Linked DNA regions of Homo sapiens: region 1 is linked to region 2. The links come from fine-mapping of genetic effects on gene expression. A gene starts in region 2. The other region holds a variant in brackets. All regions are shown on one strand. Distances are from middle to middle. Region 1 overlaps ALKBH8 (alkB homolog 8, tRNA methyltransferase). Region 2 holds the start of ALKBH8 (alkB homolog 8, tRNA methyltransferase).

The links. PIP is the estimated chance that this variant, and not a neighbour inherited with it, causes the effect. A credible set is the group of variants that fine-mapping cannot tell apart.
Region 1: its variant is the best candidate, but not a certain one, in a credible set for the expression of ALKBH8 in thyroid (GTEx, PIP 0.54).

What each region holds. Positions count from the first base shown.
Region 1 is chr11:107,521,521-107,525,923 of GRCh38, forward strand. It overlaps ALKBH8 (alkB homolog 8, tRNA methyltransferase), which reads right to left. Exons shown (of 12, transcript NM_138775.3): 9 at 3,921-4,072; 10 at 779-1,035. Among named protein-coding and RNA genes, the nearest start is that of ALKBH8, 42 kb to the right of the region's middle. The variant C/T (reference allele first, on the strand shown) is at 2,301.
Region 2 is chr11:107,563,560-107,567,962 of GRCh38, forward strand. ALKBH8 (alkB homolog 8, tRNA methyltransferase) reads right to left here and starts at 2,176. Exons shown (of 12, transcript NM_138775.3): 1 at 2,042-2,176. RefSeq lists enhancers at 1,527-2,045, 1,849-2,338, 2,046-2,562, 2,409-2,468, 4,397-4,403.

The DNA.
Region 1 (4,403 bases), 42 kb before region 2:
CCTACTCCCTTACTCTCATCCTAAATCCCCTAATCTAGAGAAACGGAAGCTCCAGTCCTCACAGAGCAATGTTAAAAAATGATTACTTACAACAATACACTAAAACAAGAATATCCTACTTCTTAGCACAGCAGAAAAAAAATGGCTCATAGAAAAAAATAGTAACTGAAAACAGACATTCTGGAATCAGACAGAAATGGGTTCAAATTCTGGGTCTAGCACTGTAACCTTGGTCAAGTTTTTAATCTGTTTGAGACTTCCTTTCCTCAACAGTAAGATACCAATAAATAGAAAATTTTTTTCTACTATGAATAAAGTTTGGAGTAGAAGATATAGGTTCAAGTTCCAGTTATGTCCCCTAATTATATGACATCAGGAAATTAATATGATCACTGTGAGCCCCAATTTCTTCATTTACAAAAGATGGATGAAAATATCAGCTTTATCTTCTTCATACTTAGGGGGATCCAAGCCAAAAAATGATTTCTATAAAAATCCTTTCTAATCTGTAAAGAGTTTTATAACTATAAGATAGTTTTACTGATAAAATAATATGGTAGAAAGCAAAATCTAAAGGGAGAAAAAAAATTATATAATGATGGTGTGCCCATAAATTCCTAGAGGAATAAGAAAGAATAAAAAAAATCATTAATTTTCAATCTGTTGGTTATAACTTTCTGGCAATGATCTAAAAAAACAGGATTATATCATGAGGAAGAAAGATGATGATAACCACTGCAAATTAAGCAAAAAGAAAGTCAAAAGCAACATTACTTGCCATATATAACTCCTTATTGATGCCAAGATACTTTCCATTACCACATCCAATATCAGCCACTATTGAACCACTTGGCAAAGCCTTCAAAAACTCCACAATGTGCGGCCAAGGGGTATGTCTTGTGCTGCTGAAGTGCCCAGCAATCTCTTCATAAACCTGATGGACGTACTCTTGCTCCAGCCGTGAGGCTTCTTTATCACTCTCTGGAAATGAGGGGGGAGTCTCTTTCCTCTGGCTATCACAGACCAACGGGTAACCTTAATGAAAAAGCAATACACACCTTTCCTTTTTATCAGAATAACTCATAAGGTATCAAGTTTTCTTAAATGAAAAAAAAAAATCAATGCAAATTTGGTGGGTAGACAGACTCTGATTTATCCGTTAAAAGAAAAAGTTCTTCCCTAATAAGTCTACTGAGGACTGCTTGAGTCTGGGGGGCCAAGGCTGCAGTGAGCTATGATCGTGCTATTGCACTCCAGCACAGGTGACAGAGCAAGACGGTCTTTAAAAAAAGACAAAAAAATACCTAGTGTTGGTGTGGATAAGAAGAGAAGGGAGCTCTTGCACACTGTTGGTGGGAATGTAAATTAGAATGGTCATTATGAAAAACAGTACAGAGGTTCTTCAAAAACTTAGAAACAGGGGACTACCTGCCTTCGGGCCCCCTCTCACACAGAACCCACTTCAGGTTCAATCCCCTCTCGTATCAAGAGCTGTTCTGTCACTCAATAAAACCCTTCTCTGCCTTGCTCAAAAAAAAAAAAAAAATTAAAAATAAGTACTATCTTATAAACCAGTAATCCCAGTATGGGGTATATATCCAAAGAAAATGAAATTAGTACGTCAGAAAGACATCTGCACTCACATGTTTACTGCAACACTATTCACAACAGCCAAGACATGGAATCAAAGTGCCTATCAGTGAATGAATGGAAAAAGAAAATATGGTACATATACACAACAGAATACTATTCAGCCACAAACAGAAGGAAATCTTGCCATTTACAACATGGATAAACTTAGAGGATATTATGTTAAGTGAAATAAGCCAGACAGAGAAGGCAAATACTATACAATCTCACTCATATATGGAATCTAAAAAAAAGCTGATCTCACAGAATAGAGAGTAGTAGAATGGTGGTTACCAGGGGCTGGAGCAGTTGGGGTGGGAGCCGGGGAGATGCTAATGAAAGGATACAAAATTTCAGTGAGATAGAATAAGTCCCAGGGATCTAGTGTAAAACATGTGACTATAGTTAATAATAATATATTGTATTCTTGAAAATCACTATGAGAATAAATTCTTTTTTTTTTTTTTTTTTGAGACAGAGTCTCACTCTGTTGGCCAGGCTAGAGTGCAGTGGCATGATATCGGCTCACTGCAACCTCCGCCTCCTGGGTTCAAGTGATTCTCCTGCCTCAGCCTCCCGAGTAGCTGGGATTACAGGCGTGTGCCACCATGCCTGGCCAATTTTTGTATTTTTGGTAGAGACAGGTTTCACCATGTTGGCCAGGCTGGTCT[C/T]GAACTCCTGACCTCAGATAATCTGCCCACCTTGGCCTCCCAAAGTGCTGGGATTACAGGTGTGAGCCACCGCACCCAGCCGAGAATAAATTTTTAAGTGTTCTCATCACAAAAAAGTATAAGTATGTGAGGTAATAATACATGTTAATTAGCTCAATTGAGCCATTCCACAATATATATGTATTTTAAAACATCATGTTGTACATGATAAACATTTATAATTTGGGGGGTTTTCTGTTGCTGTTTTTTCGTTTTGAGACAGGGTCTTGCTCTGTCACCCAGGCCACAGTGCAAGTGGCGCGATCATAGCTCACTGCAGCCTCAAACTCCTAGGCTCACACAATCCTCCCGCCTCAGCTTTCCTAGTAACTAGGACTACAGGCACACACCACCATGCCTGTCTAAATTTTGATTTTATTTTTTTGCAGACAGGGGGTCTTCCTATGTTGTCCAAGCTGATTTTGAACTCCTGGCCTCAAGCAATTCTCTTGCCTCAGCCTCCCAAAGTGCTGGGATTACAGGCATGAGCCACTGTGCCAGCCACAATTATTATTCATCTTAAAAAAAAATCTGTAAACTGAATCCCCAATAACAGCTTCTTACATTTAATAAATGCCCATGATAAACATTTGCATAAGAAAACTAGCTTGTCTCTCCAACTACACTTTAAGTTCCTTAAGAACAGGAGCCATGCTTTATTTTTCTATACCATGTAACTCACTATCTGCAATGTTCAATATTCATCAAATAATAAACATTTTAAATTTAACTTTTAAAATTTGATATTTTAAGGCTTCAAGGACACTTTTAGTAAAATAAAAAGCTCTTTTAAGCTTCAGTAACATCAGGATATAAAATATAGAAATTTCAAGTTTTCTAAAAGCATAACATTTTGTAGATATAGTAAGAGTTTTTAATTAAATGTTTTCAAGATTATGACTAAATCCAAAAGCTGTTGGTAGATACCACCCATAATTAAAACCCCCAAGATATAAAAAGGATTTTATTATTACTATCATTACAAAATATTATTTACAAAATGAAAGAGGTGTCTGTTAATTGAGTCAAAGAAATCCAGAACATGATGTACTTGTACAGACGATTCAAAATAGCATCCTCTTGACAAGTTTTTGAGCAGTTTTTATTCCCTTCTGAGTTTTCAAATTGACTAAAACATAAACTGTCGCTTATCTCCCTAGAGTTATGTACTATAGAACAATTTGTCATCTCCAACTTCCCTGTTGGATTAATAAGATATAATTTAGAAACTTGACAAACCATTCCCAACAATACCCGTTTTTAAACAAGTAATATTTTATTGCCCTTCAATTGTAGCACTCTTAACTGTTACTTCAATAAGTAAAACATTTATTGGGCACCCAACTCAAGTACTAAGTTTGGAAAAAATAAAGATGAGAAGATGCAGACCCTTGCCTTCAAAGAATGTAAACTCTAATGAGGGTCGTTAAGAAAAGTGCATGAAAGTGCAATACAAGGCAAAATACAGGAAATGCCATTAGAGAGATTCAGAAAAAGCTCTCCTAGGTGTTGACAGGACCTTAAAGGACTTTTATATTAAACTGACTCCATTTTACAGACGAGATAAGAGTATATACTTACTACAGTTACAAGGTGTTTGCCTCACTTTCCTAAATGTAAATGATGTTCGTAGTCCCCTCTTGCTTAAAGTTAAGTCTCCAACATCACTGGTGATAATTCCACTTTTAAGACTCTCAGATGCTTGAACAGTATCAAATTTTCTGCACGTGATTCTAAAAACAATAGTCAAAAAAATTTACTTAACATTGTATTAATAAAAATATTTCAGGCCTTTAAAAATGTTAAGTGAATAGAGAAAATCTAGAAGAATTTATTACAAATATCTATTGGATTCCCTGAATTGTTAGACATTGTGGAAAAACAAAGAAATAAAGGTATTTAAGGAAATTATCTTCATGACAATAATATTAAAAGAATGTACAACAAATTATTCCATGGGAAAATAAAATAAATATTTAATTAACACCAATTCTAAAAAAAACAAAAAAGAACAGATGATGCCAAGAGGAAACAAATAGATGGTAAATTTAAATTCATTATCAG
Region 2 (4,403 bases):
AAGCAGCAGATCAAAATGGCTTAACAAAACAAAGAATATCTGAGGCCCTTCAAAGGAGCTATTTTAGAGCCATTCCATTTCAAGATCTTCATCTGTGGAACAGCAACTTTGCAGTATGTCATGGAGAACAAGGGATGACTGCACTACAGAATTTTTAATATTTCACATGAGCAAACACTGCAAAGAAGGAATGAGAAAGAAACGATGCTAAATATATCTTTTTAAAATGTCTGCCACTAAGAGTCCAGCACCAGCAGGTGGAGCCTCATAACCACATTTTTGTCATCCCTTTCCTTTTTCTCTCCCTCAGTCATGCAATATTATTGCACGTGAAGAAAGACACTAAATGGCCTTTGAGGCTCAGTTTTCCACCATTCCAGTGGCTAGGCAATGTGCTGGCCCAACATATCTGAGTCATCTCAACAAGGATAGGCTGATACCAGCTGCTGAGGTCTGGAGGTGCCCCCTTCTGACAAAGCCACTTCCCTGGCCAGAGTTTCCACTAATGCACAGATACTTGGATGCTCCCTGTGACATTACTGGAGTGAAGTCACTATTAACTATGATACTAGCCATGCTGAGTCCGGTTCAGCCAGCTCCAGCCTAAGCGTACTCTCTGTGGGATAATGAAAGTTTGGAGATTATGCATGCTCTGCTACTTGCTTGTTAGTGAGTTTAAAGCCAATATATCCTACTAGATATTGCCCTACGTGGTAATAGTAGTATGTACATCATGCCCTCCTTGAATAATAGAGAGCCTATTATGAAACAAGCAGTATAGACAAATGTTCCTATACTTATATGTTTAAAAAAATGCAAAAACCATGATTACTTTTGCACAACCTAATAATTAATAGCAAAGATTAGAAAGAATCTAACTTCCTATCAAACGAGGCCCAATTTTAACGTACGGCACTGGTATACAGAGTTTACATATAAATCTTTAGGACACACAAGAAATTGGTGATATGGGTTGCCTCCAGGGAAGGAAAATGGATCGATGAGTAAAGGAATGAAAGGGAGCTTTCTTCTTTCATGACTTTTGAAGTTAGTAGCTATTTAAACTGCATCATCTATTTAAAAAGAAAATAAAGATTTAAAATTTTTAGAAAAAAATTCACCCCATCACTTGTCACGGCACCCCGTTTTAACTCTTTGAATAACACTTACTACATATTTTCTTACACTCTCATTAATTTGTTTATTCTGTCTTTCCCCATAACTGAATAAAGAACACTCACTCCATGAAGTAGAGATTTTGTCTCTATTGTTCACCCTGTAGCACCCAGCACTTAAACAGGATTTAGCACCTAGCAGCCACTCAATAACCATTTGTCGAATAAACCTAAATCGACTTTGCTGTCTTACCTCCTAAACCTCCCCTCCTCCAGAATTCTGAGTTTGGTGGCCTTCTTCAACGTTTTCATTAACACCTAGCATGGACCTCTATCTCTAGAGTTCTCACATGGTATTATAATTGCCTGTTTGTGTTGGGCTTCGGCCAGAAAACTGTCATCTATTTAAGGGCACAGACTTGGTGCCTGACATACAACTGACAATAAATATTCAATGAAATCTATCAAAATAACAGGCTGACGCTACCAGAGGTCCAGGAGTCGCAGGGATTGCTCAAATAAGAGCACAGGAAGACTCAGCTGCGCAAGGGATCAGATCATCAGCACTGCCTTTGCATCGATGCAATCAGACCGATTGTCACCGGTCAGAAAAGCCCCAGAAGCGCCACACTAACACGCCCCATGTTGCAACCGTCCTCTCCAACCCCAAAGAAAACAGAAGATTGACACAGGCACCACGTGAGCGCCCGAACCAAACACAAACACATGCACCCTAAACACTGAGAGAACCACCCAACGCAGACACCCTACTGCCCACACTGCACCAAGGGCGCCTCTGGGATCCATCCCCTTTCCCTAGGTTCTCAGCCCTAGCTGGCAAGGCGGATAGAGAAGACCGGAAGAGGCTGAAAAGAGGAAGCGGTGATTTGCTGCCCGTATGCCCGCCAGTAAGAAGTGCCACACACCTCCGCTTCGGCTCAGGCCGGATTCTCACCATGCGTGTGCCTTCTTCTTTGCCAGCCTCTCCACTCTAGCACCAGAACACCGCAGCGGATACTTGCACGCCATCTCCCCTGGGCGCGGCCATGTTGGAGAAAACTGCACTACATTTCCCATGAGCCCGCGGGACAACGAACAGCGCTCCCACAGTCCTCTTCGCCTCCCAGAGCCCGGGAGTGACCCTTTTTCGACCAAGTGTCTTTGTAAAGTGCTGTCTGTTACACTGAAAATTCAGTTGTCTTTTTGGGGGGAGTAGTAATAATTGGTAGTGCAGCTATATTTTTATCTGTTGCTCTCCAAATGGACAAGGTCAAACAGGTTTGGGCCCTTTGGTCTTTCAGCAATGTCCCCTGGCACCTTCTATTCTTCGTGCATATTTCCTCCTGAATCTTATTAGAGGTGAGAAAGGAAAATAAATCTTGGTGCCACAAAATCACTAAGCTAAAGGGAAAAGTCAAGCTAGGAACTGCTTGGGCAAACCTGCCTCCCATTCTATTCAAAGTCATCCCTCTGAGTCATCCCTCTGCTCACTGAGATAAATGCATATCTGATTGCCTCCTTTGGAAAGGCTCATCAGAAACTCAAAAGAATGCAACCATTTGTCTCTCAGCTGTAATACGTGCGACCTGGAAGCCCCCTCCTCACTTTGAGTTGGCCCGCCTCTGCTTCAATTTGTCCCTCCTTTCTGGACGGAACCAATGTTCATCTTACATATATTGATTGATGCCTCATGTCTCCCTAAAATGTATAAAACCAAGCTGTGCCCCGACCACCCTGGACACATATCATCAGGACCTCCTGAGGCTGTGTCACGGGCGGGCGTCCTTAACTTTGGCAAAATAAATTTCCTAAATTGTCTGAGACCTGTCTCAGATATTCAGGGTTCACAGAGATATGGGAGAGGATCCTGGGGTCTGAAAGATGGCATTGCATGGGCGGGAGGGAAGGAAGTGAATATGCATGAATGTGCCAGGGGAATGGTGAGTACCACAGAGTAATAGAAAGATGTGTGGAAGAATGGTGAAGGAAGCAAGACAGAATTCTGTAGGCCTGCAGAGTGGGAGTTGCAGGGAGGAAGGTTAGAGAAATGAAATGATATGACCAGAGCTTCTTGTGGCAAGTGGGAGGAGAGACTAGAAGATGACTGATGAAGTGAAAAGTAACGAAATATTAACAAGCCCAGTAGTGGCAGAGGGAAAGAAAAAAGAGCTGGTAACAGATCATAAGTAAAAGACAAAGGAGAGGGTGATGATTAGCAGTTGTTCCTGCTCTGTTATTTGTTATATAAATGTACCATAATCCTTCTACCTGCATTGGTTTATGAGCTATGTGAGTGCAGGGAGGGAAAGGTGTAGGGGAAGAGGAATCACCTTCCCATGTTGTTGATACAATGGCCCCTATCTGCAGTGCACCACAGTGGACTAACAATAAAATAGCTGGCTGACCAGGAAAAGTGGCAGTGAAAAAAGAGTGCTGTTGAGTGGCGGAATGATTTGTGTGGAGAATAGGTTACAAACATGAAAGAACAGAAGAGGCAGATAGGCAAGCATTGCAATAGTCTAGGAAAGAAAGGGTGAGACCAAAACTTAATAGTAAAAATGAGGAGGCAAGTGCAAGCTGGAGAGGTCAAATCCACCAGACATTGCAAGCTACATGAGTATAAGAGGACACACAGGAAATCTCCCCATTGCAATTCTGCTTCTGCACTACTGGATGCTTTCAAAAACACATCCCCATAGAGCTTTCTGCAATGATGGAAATATTTTATAGTTTGAGCTGTCCAACATAATAGACACTAGTTAACGTGTGGCTTATGAGCATTTCAAATGTGGCTAGTATGACTAAGGAAATGAATTTTGAATGTTTAAATTTTAGTTTCAATTAAACTTAAGTAGCCACAAGTGGCCGGTGTCTACCAAACTGGATAACAGTGTAAAATATCCTCTTATCTCTTACTGATCAAATTCAATTACTTCATCTCAGTATTTGTCCTGCTTTAAGGTGCTGAAGCTTTTAAAACTTTTTTTCTGCACCTCTCTTTTAATTCTCTTTATACGATCTGATCACTTACTTTCAGAATTTTCCACTAGTTTCTCTCACTCTGTCCGTAATTAAATATAGGCAATCCCTCAGATTTTGAGTTTGACTCTTTTCTGTTATTCTAGTCTCTTCCTGTCTGCCCTCCCCAGAGTTATAAAGAGATTTGTGAATCATTCCCTAATCTTTATCTTCAGCCCTGGCTTCTATTAAAAGAAAAACTTTAGCCAAATTAAATTTAAAGGAGTTTAATTGAGCAATGAACTTTTGATTCGTAAATCGGGCAGCCCC